Linked DNA regions of Homo sapiens: region 1 is linked to region 2. Evidence: fine-mapped expression QTL. Tissue or cell type: gastroesophageal junction. Region 2 holds a variant in brackets; the other region holds the start of a gene. All regions are shown on one strand. Distances are between the middles of the regions.

What was found. PIP is the estimated chance that this variant, and not a neighbour inherited with it, causes the effect.
Region 1: it holds the start of VIRMA, and the variant in region 2 is fine-mapped to the expression of VIRMA in gastroesophageal junction (GTEx, PIP 0.98).

The regions. Positions count from the first base shown.
Region 1 is chr8:94,552,238-94,554,922 of GRCh38, reverse strand. It overlaps VIRMA (vir like m6A methyltransferase associated), which reads left to right and starts at 1,454. Exons shown (of 24, transcript NM_015496.5): 1 at 1,454-1,538. The coding sequence starts at 1,476. It overlaps VIRMA-DT (VIRMA divergent transcript), which reads right to left and starts at 1,210. Exons shown (of 2, transcript NR_183271.1): 1 at 1,016-1,210. RefSeq lists an enhancer at 1,141-1,760.
Region 2 is chr8:93,619,520-93,622,204 of GRCh38, reverse strand. The region is part of intron 5 of CIBAR1-DT (CIBAR1 divergent transcript); the gene reads left to right. Among named protein-coding and RNA genes, the nearest start is that of CIBAR1-DT, 80 kb to the left of the region's middle. The variant T/C (reference allele first, on the strand shown) is at 1,038.

The sequences.
Region 1 (2,685 bases), 930 kb before region 2:
AAAACATTACCAAGGCATGTGAAGCCTTTCTGTTCTTCTCCATTACATCTCCTTCCAGTTTACCACTATCTTGAAATTTTAGTTACTCCAATACATGACTTTATAATTTCATGACATATGTACACTCCTAAAATTTTATATTCTTTTGCACGTTTTTAAATATATAGATGTTATTTTACACTATATATTTTTTATTTCCTTTTCTAAGAGATGGGTGTCCCCACTGGCCTCCAACTCCTGGGCTTAAGAGATTCTCCTGTCTCAGCTTCCCGAGAAGTTGGGACCACAGGAACACGCCACCGCACCCGGCTTGCGATGAGAGGAGTTAAACTTGTTTTGTTTTGGTTTGTGTCTTTTTTTTTTCTTTTTGTGAATAACGGGGTCTCGCTATATTGCCCAGGCAGTTCTCCAACTCCTGGGCTCAAGCGATCCTCCCGCTTCATCCTCCCTAAGTGCTGGATTACAGGCGTGAGCCAAAGCGCCCACCAACCCTGTTTTTTGGGTTTTTCATGCTAGTAAACATAGCACTGGTTCATTCTTCGTACCTGCTATATACTATTATATAAATACGCCACTATTTACTTATTACTTCTGTCAATGGCACTTATGTTTCCTGCTCTTTTGCAACTTATAAAGTTTGCTATGAATATTCTTGTATTTGTAGATACGTGGGCGAGAATTTTCCTAGAAGAGTGGTAGGCACGTGTAATTTTACAAGCTATTTCCTAGTTGCTCTGCTAAGGGTTTGTGCCATTTAGACTACCAAACCCGCTGAGTTTATCTCGTTGCTCCAAAGCTCATCAACACCCGACAGAGAGGCTTACTTTTCATTCTGCCTCCTGTTTTATTGTTCATGGTACTTCACGTTACACAATTCCTCGAATTTTATTTCAATTACTCCTCACAATCACCCTGTAGGTTAGGTACGATTTTTCACATTTTACAGATAAGAAAACAAAGAATCTCTTCGTTGGTTGAAACAACAGTTTTTCTTCTATTTAAATCAATGTCTTACTTTTCAACCTCGCTCACTGTTATCTTTTTGCTCCCAGCGCTGGAAAAAGTGGGACATCCCCTTCGGTGGGTGTACGGGGTTGGTATCCAAAGTTGGCAGCTTTCCCTCCCCCTCCTCCATCCACCGTCTCCAAAACCCCGTCTCCGCACTTCGCCACCCGGAGACCGCTGTAGCTCTGTAACGCGGAGGAACGACAGGGTTTGAACCACTGGAGACCCCGTAGTCCCCATCTCACTTCCCTCTGCCCCCCCTCTGCGTTCTAGGGGGCGCCCTCCGCCGCGCTGGAAAAGGCGGGGCCGGCAACTCCGGGCAACAAGATGCGTTGGGATAGGCCGAGGTTTGCGGCGCTAGTGCTCTGGTCACCGGAAGTCCCTCTGTTTCTCCCTCTCCTGAGTCGCTGTCGCGGAGGCTGGAGCGCTGCCCCGGAAGTCCTCCCCCCTGTTCCCCGCCCGCGGCAAACATGGCGGTGGACTCGGCGATGGAGCTGTTATTTTTAGATACTTTTAAACACCCGAGCGCTGAGGTAAGGCTTGGCGACTTGATTCTGACGCTGCTTCTTGACTTGGGATCTTTACAAAAAAACCGTTAGGCGTTCTCCACTTTTCCTTCTGCAGATTGCTTCTTTAATTTCTCGCTTACACACAGACACCCTCCCCCGAGCTGTGTGAGCATCGCGTCTGAGGGAGGGCTGCAGCAGCCCCTTCATTTCCTTGCTTTAACTTGGGCCCTCCGTGTCTTTGGTCGAGTTGGCTTTTCTGCTTGCATGGCTTTATTTTTTATTTTTCCTGTCAGGTTTGGGCCTTGAGAAGGATCAGGGTTCTCAGGTTTACCTCAGATGGCGTTTGGGAGGGGTCTTGGTTTGCCAGTAGTGTTTGACAGTAGTGCCGGAGTCTGAGCAGTTTACGTTGGCTTCGTGGTTTCCGAATCACGATGTTTCTAAATCCTTTCTCTTTGGCCTCTTTTCTGTCGGGAATTATGTTCCCCAGTTGTGACACTTACTTGGTTTAGGATTACGGTGCTCTCCGATTTGGCCTGAAACTTTAATACTTGTCTCTCGGAGAGATTTCACACATTAGGAATGAGATGCATTCACGGAGAATACTTGCGAAGAGGGGAGAGTTGAGAGAATTATAGTTAAACTCATCAGCAGACATCTCCTTTGAGGTTGGAGGTGGAATGTTGTGGAGTAATATTTCTGTACAAAACTACTTGAGCGCCCCTTAATGTACAATTGGCCCTGCAATATGTAGATTAAACATAGCTGGTTAACTAAAGATTCCTGAAAGCAGACCAAAAATGAACTTGAATGAAGTCTACGGAGAAATTGTTAAAAAAAAAAACGAACTTCACATTTTTCTGTCTTAATGTAAGCTTAATTTAGAGAACTGTTCTTTCTTTGGAGATTATTTTTTTCCTTTTATTTTTATCAAGTGTGCTCTTGTATCAAGCTTTTTGAGGACAGATATAATTTCTCTTTTTCTCAGCTGTATCTCCAGTGCCTAGGACAGTATTAGCAAAATGTAGGTGCTCAATAAATATTTGAATGGAAAATGTTTAAAATGTTCTTTCTTTTATGAGATAGTAATGATAGTGGGTAGTGATTGTATCATAATGCTTTACTTGGCAAAATAAAAAGTTGACAGCTGTGATCTAATTTAACGAATGGTTTA
Region 2 (2,685 bases):
CTGGAGAACCTAATTCTTGGGACACTTCTCAACCAAAGAGTACTAAAGCTCTTGAGATAATGTGGCTGTTTAAGGATGCTGTTGGCTTTACAGACTTACGGTGATATATTGTGGGACTCTGTTAGGTAATAGAATTGGTTACTAGTTTTTGGAGGGCATTCCATTTAAATTTGGAATCTCCAAATTAAAAGTGGTGTCCCCTCCTCACTGTTCACTATAAAATAAATAAGTCTCCAGTGATTTCCTTTGCCAGAGCCTACAGAGGCAGGGAGCCCATCAATGAATGCATTGTTTCTTGTGGATGAAGGGCTTGTGGAAACTGGATGCTATTTTATAGTAATTTTTTGAACAGTTCAATAAAATTACCCTACAATGTATACTTGGAAGTGACAAAGAAAATGTTTTAGGAGCATATAATAGAATCAGTCACTTCATTAATTCTAATATGAGTGTGCAAAAAGATTATTCAATGCCTCAGCCTATAGCTTCTGCAGGATATACCCATGGCAGAGTCTCAATAGATTCTGACAGACACTGATGTAAATGAAGGAGGCAATTTTGCATGCCGATCCCCCCACCAGGGACTTGAGAAAATTGCTTTTTTTTGGGATCTGGAAAGGAGATGCCAGGCTTGGAAGTGCCAAGGTGAGCTCAGAACATCATCCTAGACAAGTTTCTAGATTGTTGTGATTAATATGCCCCTCACATTTTTTTTTCAAAAACACCTCTAAAGACCTACCTATAAGGGATTTATGTAAATAACATGGGGAGGGTTCTTAAAAATATGCCTAATAAATTGTCTTCTAACTCACAATATCCTAGATTGATGAAGTCCATAAGACCTTTCAAGTGACTGTCAGAACCTTTTAGAAATAGCTAGACTCATAGTTTTTGCTTTGGGATTTTACGGATATTTTCATGAATGTTTGTGATTAATTTCATTTTTTTCCATCTTTTTAAAAAGAGTGTATGTTTGTGTTTTTATTTAGAGAAATAGCCAAAGATTTTATTGAGAGAGTACAAGATGGCTTAGGTTT[T/C]AGCTCAGCTTTGACCTGACCTTCTTGTGGCCATGGGCAAGTCAGTTGACTTCCCTGATCCTCAGTTGCTTCATTCTTAAAATGAGAATGCTGACATAGGTGCTTAGATTTGTATGAATACATAAAAATACATTATGCTTTTTGCATGTAAATATGCTTTCAATGTACATAGACTGTTGCATATCTTTTCCATTCATCACTATGAAGTGGTTACTTATGAGTGTGGATCAGAGATGAAGGGGAAATATAATATAGGAGAGGGAGCACTGTGTTCACTTATGACAACAGAGTGCTGTGGGCCCAGGAGTGTTACTAGCTCAACTCTCTTTACTCAGGCCCCGCCCCCCCTTTTTTTGAGAAAGGGTCTCCATCTTTGACCTGGGCTGGAGTGCAGTGGTGTGATCATGGGTCACTGCAGCCTCGACCTTCTGGGCTCAAGTGATCCTTCCACCTCAGCACTGCAGACGTGCACCACCATGCCAGCTAATTTATTTATTTATTTATTTGTAGAGGTGGAGTCTCACTGTGTTGCCCTGGCTGGGCCCAAAATTTTTAAAAAAATGAAGAAACAAAAAAAGAGAGCTGGACAAAACAAGTGGTTCCCAATCTTTTAAATCTCACCAACTAGTCACACGCAAGAGCAATGTTTGAGAATTGACAAATTGTATTTAGTAAGGACATAAACAATTTAGTGTATTACCTTCATTTTATACATAAAATGACATTCAAATACATAAAATATGAGAAGCATATATTATCAGAAAAAAGACAGTCCTTTGAATTCAAAGTTTACCTTCTGGAAAACTCATCACATTGTCCTTATTTTTCTTGCTTTTTCTTGGGCTAATAAAAAGAGTTATTTTATATGGTCATGGGTCCTAGGACTGGCATTTGGAAACCAATGAGTCTTTTCCAGAATTACATTCTATGAGTCTTGTTTGTATTTTCTGGGAGAGAGCAATTGGGCGATGCTCTCCTAGGCTTGTGTAAAATCCTGAGGCTAATGTCTAGGCTGTTATTAATCCAGGGTGGGGAGGGGAAGAAACACTCTGTGTTTGTTGTCTTCTAGGGAGACTAGCTGAGCTTCTCATTGTTTGCGGAGGGAATGCGTGTATGAGCACATGTGTCTTTGGACACAGTGGGGAGCACTGAGATGGAACCTTTGTAACCCTGCTGGTATTATCATCTTTAGATCGAGTTTTACAATTAGAATGGTATGAATAACATAAATAAACTGATGGTGATTTACCTTGCCTTTTTATTTCATTTCCTGGAGTTTTATGACTTGAATTTTGTGAAAATCTCTATTATCGGTCGGCGGGTAGCCCAGCCATCTAAAATTATATGTTGATTGTCTGAGAAATAATTTTTCCCCAAGGAAGACTAACATTGACATAGCACTGATTTAATTGTTAAACCATTCTGCTTATTTTCCCATAGCTTTGTGACCATGGGTAGGTAGCCTTTCTGTGTTCTGAGGGCACTCAATAACATTGAACTAGTAGTATGTCTGTGTGAATCAGGCTACACTTGAGTGTGAAAGCCTGCTGGATGGGGCTCAGTTTTCTCCCTTGTATCTGGAAGGATGATAACAACCAGGCAGTTTTCTCCTGGCGGCATGGATAAGAGCCTTCTTCTGCCCCATCAG